Homo sapiens: one gene and its partner. The protein of the gene in region 1 interacts with the protein of each later gene in a pairwise test. Each region holds a gene or a part of one and is shown in the gene's direction. Other genes may lie near its edges.

The links. The genes of interacting proteins can lie anywhere in the genome.
Region 2: the proteins of TLE5 (region 1) and GIGYF1 interact in binary tests that used the Homo sapiens proteins (3 or more experiments, as listed by UniProt).

The regions. Positions count from the first base shown.
Region 1 is NC_000019.10:3,052,496-3,055,995, reverse strand, and holds the end of TLE5 (TLE family member 5), read left to right. Parts: intron 1-269; coding exon 270-332; intron 333-1,801; coding exon 1,802-1,876; intron 1,877-1,955; coding exon 1,956-2,177; 3' UTR 2,178-3,086; downstream 3,087-3,500. UniProt on the Homo sapiens protein: Transcriptional corepressor. Acts as a dominant repressor towards other family members. Inhibits NF-kappa-B-regulated gene expression. May be required for the initiation and maintenance of the differentiated state.
Region 2 is NC_000007.14:100,684,251-100,687,750, reverse strand, and holds part of GIGYF1 (GRB10-interacting GYF protein 1), read left to right. Parts: intron 1-134; coding exon 135-246; intron 247-344; coding exon 345-453; intron 454-704; coding exon 705-745; intron 746-931; coding exon 932-1,102; intron 1,103-1,317; coding exon 1,318-1,571; intron 1,572-1,671; coding exon 1,672-1,777; intron 1,778-2,269; coding exon 2,270-2,407; intron 2,408-2,604; coding exon 2,605-2,702; intron 2,703-2,856; coding exon 2,857-3,028; intron 3,029-3,134; coding exon 3,135-3,301; intron 3,302-3,410; exon of another isoform or gene 3,411-3,413; coding exon 3,414-3,500. UniProt on the Homo sapiens protein: May act cooperatively with GRB10 to regulate tyrosine kinase receptor signaling. May increase IGF1 receptor phosphorylation under IGF1 stimulation as well as phosphorylation of IRS1 and SHC1.

The DNA.
Region 1 (3,500 bases):
CCGACCCCCGAGGAATGTGCAGTCTGGCCTCATCCTGCACTTACCTCACTCTAAGCTGCAGGCGACAGCCGGTGTCCAGCCCCACCTTTGCCACTGACTGGCTGCCCTCGGGCCCGAACACGGCTTTGCTCATCCCACCCTGGCCAGACCTAGCCCCTCTTAGAAGCCGCAAGTGGCAGGGCTGGGCCGGGCCCCGCGCAGGCCTCCTGTGGCTAGCCTGCACCTGCCACCCGCCCAGGACTGAAGCCGGCTTCATCTGTGTGTTCCAGGCTGAGATCGTCAAAAGGCTGAACGGGATTTGTGCCCAGGTCCTGCCCTACCTCTCCCAAGAGGTAAGAGCCAGGGCCTTGGGGAGGGGTTGTGAGGGGGCCCCGCACTTGCCCAGCCCCTGTCCACTGCAGCCATCTTGGGTGGTGTGCTGGGCGCCCCAGGGCACACGCCTCCCCTCTCTGGACCTCCCTGGCTCTGAACACCAGAGCCGGCCTGTGCAGAAGAATCCCCGGGCCAGAGACACTCCAGGGGTGCAGGCGTGTGGGGGGCGGGCCTCACCCTGCTCTGGAATTCCCAGCTGGAGTGAGTCATGTCATAGGTAGAAATGTCAGATGGGCCTAAACTGCACCAGGAATGTTTTTTTCTCATCTCTCTTCCTCCTTTCACCCTCTTGAGACATCCTCCTCCAGGCCATGCGGGCTGCACAGGACCAAGGACTAGAGGGTGTTAGGGGATTGTGGGGGAAGGGGTAGCACAGGGTGGTCACACATGGACACAGCCACACAGATAGGCACGAGCACATCAACACACGGGAGATACACAGATGCAGACACGGATACACGTGTGTGCAGACAGCACAGGGACACGCATGCAGGAATGTGCAGCTACACGTGGGCACACGTGATCCTGAGCACACATTACCACATGCACACACACACCCAGATGAACCTGACGCCCAGCTCCTCTTCTCCTTTCTTGGGTTCTGAGGCTCAGGATGCGAGGCCGCCCCTCCCCAGGGCCATGTAAGGCCCATCTCCTGTCCCTGCCAAGTTTACTGTCAAAAGTTTGTAACTTCCTCTTCAATCCCTGTGGGTATCTCAGGATCCTTTGGGTGCCCTGCTTTGCCCAGGGACAAGTCTTAGCAGGACCCAATGAAAGCCCTAGAGAAAAGGGCACTTGGAGCCCTTCAGAACAGAGGCTTCCTGGTAGCCAAGGCAAAAAGGGAGATTGGTAGATTCTAGCATCTGCTGGCCACAGAGTCAGGTGTTTGGGGAGAGCTCAGGGAGGAACTGCCCTGAATCTGAGCCCATTCCCCAGCCAGCCCTGCCAGAATTCATTGGGCCCTCCCCAGCCATGGTAGGAGAAGGGCTCAATTTGGCCAGACTCAGGGCACAGTCTTGGAGCTCCTAGGATCAGGACGTCCCTGTACAGTTGGGCAGGTTGTGTACTGCACAAACATTCACATGTTTCACATCTTTGCAGGTGGCTGTGCACATAGGATAGGTCAGGATCCAGGGTTTCTCCCGGGCTCACTCAAAAGCTGTTTCCTAACTACTTAGCACAAAACCCTTTTAATTGTTTTCTGCACTTTTCCATTTGTCTCTGTTGGCCAGACGAAGAGACGAGCTTGGTGAAAGGAAGCAGTTGGAGAGAGGGAGGGTGCTTTCTGATGGGGTTGAAAACCACTGGGAGGAGCAGACATGATGGCCCACTTGGTAGTGGGGCTCCTCCTGGCCTCAGGGCCGTCCCCCTCTCCTCTCCCAGGATCAGGAGGAATCACTGCCTCTCCTCTCCCCCGACCCCCTTCCAGCACCAGCAGCAGGTCTTGGGAGCCATTGAGAGGGCCAAGCAGGTCACCGCTCCCGAGCTGAACTCTATCATCCGAGTATGTATGGGGACCTGGGCGGGTGGGCGGGGGACAGGTGGGCCCCAGGCAGCTAATGTTCCCCTCCCCCGCCCTGCAGCAGCAGCTCCAAGCCCACCAGCTGTCCCAGCTGCAGGCCCTGGCCCTGCCCTTGACCCCACTACCCGTGGGGCTGCAGCCGCCTTCGCTGCCGGCGGTCAGCGCAGGCACCGGCCTCCTCTCGCTGTCCGCGCTGGGTTCCCAGGCCCACCTCTCCAAGGAAGACAAGAACGGGCACGATGGTGACACCCACCAGGAGGATGATGGCGAGAAGTCGGATTAGCAGGGGGCCGGGACAGGGAGGTTGGGAGGGGGGACAGAGGGGAGACAGAGGCACGGAGAGAAAGGAATGTTTAGCACAAGACACAGCGGAGCTCGGGATTGGCTAAACTCCCATAGTATTTATGGTGGCCGCCGGCGGGGGCCCCAGCCCAGCTTGCAGGCCACCTCTAGCTTTCTTCCTACCCCATTCCCGGCTTCCCTCCTCCTCCCCTGCAGCCTGGTTAGGTGGATACCTGCCCTGACATGTGAGGCAAGCTAAGGCCTGGAGGGTCAGATGGGAGACCAGGTCCCAAGGGAGCAAGACCTCGCGAAGCGCAGCAGCCCCGGCCCTTCCCCCGTTTTGAACATGTGTAACCGACAGTCTGCCTGGGCCACAGCCCTCTCACCCTGGTACTGCATGCACGCAATGCTAGCTGCCCCTTTCCCGTCCTGGGCACCCCGAGTCTCCCCCGACCCCGGGTCCCAGGTATGCTCCCACCTCCACCTGCCCCACTCACCACCTCTGCTAGTTCCAGACACCTCCACGCCCACCTGGTCCTCTCCCATCGCCCACAAAAGGGGGGGCACGAGGGACGAGCTTAGCTGAGCTGGGAGGAGCAGGGTGAGGGTGGGCGACCCAGGATTCCCCCTCCCCTTCCCAAATAAAGATGAGGGTACTAAAGTTGTCTTGGTTTTTATTTTATTATTATTTTTTTCTTTTTCCAGTATACTAGCTTGTCTTTTAAGAAAGGGGATATTAAAAAAAAAAAAAGACAAAAGTGTTTTTAAAAAAAAGCAACACCCACACCTGTGTCTGTATATAGTCAGCTTATCTCGTGTTCAATCGTCTGATCTCTACAGAGAGAAGTGGAAAATGCTGTATCAAGGGTGGGCTTAGCTGTGCCTTTCCAATAAAGATGTGAGAAGCTTCGGTGCTGTGTCCCTGCCTCTGTGTTGTGGCTGCCCCCGGGGGAGGACGGGGTTCCTTCCAATGTGAGACATCCTCCTAGAACATCAGGAGTTCCTAGCTGTGGCCCGGTGCGGTGTGGCTCACGCCTGTCATCCCAACACTTTGGGAGGCTGAGGCAGGCAGATCACTTGAGGCCAGGAGTTCGAGACCAGCCTGGCCAACATGGTGAAACCCTGTCTGTACTAAAAATACAAAAAAGCTGGGCGTGGTGGTGGGCAACTGTGATCCCAGCTACTTAAGAGGCTGAGGCAGAAGAATCACTTGAATTCAAGGAGGTTGCGGTGAGCTGAGATCGCACCACTGCACTCCAGCCTGGGCAACAAGAGCAAAACTCCATCTCAAAAAAAAAAAAAATACAAAAAGTAGCCGGGCATG
Region 2 (3,500 bases), on another chromosome or scaffold:
GGAGGGGAGGCCATGGGTTGGGTTAGGAGGAGAGGGGCCAGCGCTGAGGAGACAGGCGGGGAGGGTGCTGTGGGGTGGGGGTGGAGGTGGTTGGGTGCCTGGGTCCTCACTCCCGCCCCTGGCTCCCTCCTCAGAGAAACTTCTCCCTGTCAGTGAACAGCGTGGCTGTGCTGAGGCTGATGGGGAAAGGGGCTGGCCCCCCCCTGGCTGGCACCTCCCGAGGCAGGGGCAGCACGCGGAGCCGAGGTAGAGGGGTGATGGCGTGTCCTGGGGACGGGCAGATCTGGGCCCCTGACTTCGAGAACGTGCAGCAGGTTTCATTGTGCGTCTGGCCTCTTCTCTAGGCCGCGGCCGTGGTGACAGCTGCTTTTACCAAAGAAGCATCGAAGAAGGCGATGGGGCCTTTGGACGAAGCCCCCGGGAAATCCAGCGCAGCCAGAGCTGGGATGACAGGTGGGGCGGGGAGGGGGCATGGCGCAGAGCCGGGCAGGCCAGGGAGGGGAGGCCTGGGCCCTGTCGCTAGAGGGTAACAGAGGCCCACCAGATAAGCCCTGTCCGAGATCCCGGTGCTCCTGACCCCTGGTTTCGTTTGTCCCCTTCCTCCCTCCACTGCCTCAGGGCACAGTGGACAAGGCATGGGGCGGTTGCACAGGGTGGCAGGGGAGGCTGTACTGTTTCTGACCCACACGTTTCCCCTGCTGCAGAGGCGAGAGGCGGTTTGAGAAGTCAGCAAGGCGGGATGGAGGTACGAGGCTGCTGAGGGCGGCGGCCGGGGCGGCAGGGAGGACCAAGATGGGTGGCCCAGTCTGGGGGTGCTTATTTCGGAGGTGTTGGGGGCAGGAGGGCCTGGAGCTGGCCCCCCCAACGTTTCTTGAGGGTCCAGGCACCACGCTGCCTTTCTAATAACTGCCCCTGTCTTCCCGTCTCCCAGCACGATGTGGCTTTGAGGAGGGAGGGGCTGGCCCAAGGAAGGAGCACGCCCGCTCAGACAGCGAGAACTGGCGCTCCCTACGGGAGGAACAGGAGGAGGAGGAGGAGGGCAGCTGGAGGCTCGGAGCAGGGCCCCGGCGAGACGGCGACCGCTGGCGCTCCGCCAGCCCTGGTGAGATTGGGGCCTGGTAGCATTGGCGGGGGCAGTGGGGAGCAGGAACTGTAATGAGAGGGTGGGCTCCTGTAGCCACGGGGAGGGAGCAGAGGCTGGCTGGTGTGGGAGTGGCCGGGACAGCAGCCCTGGAGGTGCTCCGTGAGCTGCAGCAGAGGGGGCCGCTGGCTTCGCTTGGGTACCCACTCTTCTTCTCCCTGACTTTTCCTGTGCAGATGGTGGTCCCCGCTCTGCTGGCTGGCGGGAACATGGGGAACGGCGGCGCAAGTTTGAATTTGATTTGCGAGGGGATCGAGGAGGGTGTGGTGAAGAGGAGGGGCGGGGAGGGGGAGGCAGCTCTCACCTGCGGCGGTGCCGAGCGCCTGAAGGCTTTGAGGAGGACAAGGATGGGCTCCCAGAGTGGTGCCTGGACGATGAGGATGAAGAAATGGGCACCTTTGATGCCTCTGGGGCCTTCTTGCCTCTCAAGGTATCTGTGAGGAGGCGAGGGTGGGAACCTGCCCTTCCGGGGTCCTCTTCCTCCCCACCCACCCCAGCTGTTCTCTGCTCCCCACCCCGGCCCCATGCAGAAGGGCCCCAAGGAGCCCATTCCTGAGGAGCAGGAGCTGGACTTCCAAGGGTTGGAGGAGGAGGAGGAACCTTCCGAAGGGCTAGAGGAGGAAGGGCCTGAGGCAGGTGAGCCGCGGGGTGCCCAGCGGGCCTGGGGCTGGGCCGGGCAGGCACTGGTGTTCTTTGCCGGGCTGGGCATTGGCTGCCCACCTACCTGTAGAATCAGGCTACTTAGATCTGGAAGAAGAGTGCTGAGAGGTGGGGAGGAACCAGGGGGTAGCAGAGCCATGTCTTCAAGGCAGTGTACCAGATAGAAATCAGGCGTAATCAAAATGACCTTTGAAAGTCCCTTGAAGAAGCTGTAGAACCTGGAGTGACGTCTGCGGTGTTGTGTGGTGTTGTGCGATGTTGTGATATGTTCCTGCCGCGTCTGGCAGCGTGGAGGCGAGGGTCAGGGCACCGCATTCCCTCTGCCATTAGTTGAGTTGACCCAAGTGAAGTGGTGGACTCGGCCTAAGGGAGTGTGACCCGCGGTTCCAGCCACACTCAAGGGCTTGTGCTAACTCGCGTGGCAGGCCCAGCCCTTGGTTCTGAACTCTGGCCATCTCCCTCTTCTAGGTGGGAAAGAGCTGACCCCACTGCCTCCTCAGGAGGAGAAGTCCAGCTCCCCATCCCCACTGCCCACCCTGGGCCCACTCTGGGGGACAAACGGGGATGGGGACGAAACTGCAGAGAAAGAGCCCCCAGCGGCCGAAGGTAGGAAGGGAGGATGGCCTACCTCCCGGGTGCGCTGGGGCTGTGGGAGAAAGTGCTCCCCACTCGTGGGGGTGGGCACACAGGGCATTCACATTGAGGAGCCATGGCAAGAGCGTGGTGTTCTGGAGTGAGAGTAGGCGAAAGCTATCTTGTCTCCTCCCCGCCCTTCTTTCCACCTCCTATCTCATGCCTTCCAGATGATATTCGGGGGATCCAGCTGAGTCCCGGGGTGGGCTCCTCTGCTGGCCCACCCGGAGATCTGGAGGATGATGAAGGCTTGAAGCACCTGCAGCAGGTGTGGGGGCCTGAGAAAGCGGGAGGGACCCTTCCCACTTCTGACCTGACCTGCTTGGCCCCAGCCCCGGCCCCAGCTCAAGCTCCATCCCCATCCCCATCCTGATGTTGCTGAGATTGGCAGCTGAGCCTTTCTTCTTTTTCTGGGCATCCAGGAGGCGGAGAAGCTGGTGGCCTCCCTGCAGGACAGCTCCTTGGAGGAGGAGCAGTTCACGGCTGCCATGCAGACCCAGGGCCTGCGCCACTCTGCAGCCGCCACTGCCCTCCCGCTCAGCCATGGGGCTGCCCGGAAGTGGTTCTACAAGGACCCACAGGGCGAGATCCAAGGTACCTGTGTGGGATGGGAGGGCTGCTCAAGGCCGTTCTGGTTCAGGGTGTCTCTGGCATACCCTGTGACCCCAGTGGTTCTCCCGCTCCCTCGCTCCCTGTCCAGGCCCCTTCACGACACAGGAGATGGCAGAGTGGTTCCAGGCCGGCTACTTTTCCATGTCACTGCTGGTGAAGCGGGGCTGCGATGAGGGCTTCCAGCCGCTGGGCGAGGTGATCAAGATGTGGGGCCGCGTGCCCTTTGCCCCAGGGCCCTCACCTCCCCCACTGCTGGTGAGCCGCTTCTCCCCTGCATGGAGGGACAGGGTGTGAGGGGTGCCGGCAGGAGTCCAGCAGAGTCCCCTCCTCCCTGCTGGGGGCACTGGCCGAGCTCTCACCTGAGCAGGGAAACATGGACCAGGAGCGGCTGAAGAAGCAACAGGAGCTGGCCGCGGCGGCCTTGTACCAGCAGCTGCAGCACCAGCAGTTTCTC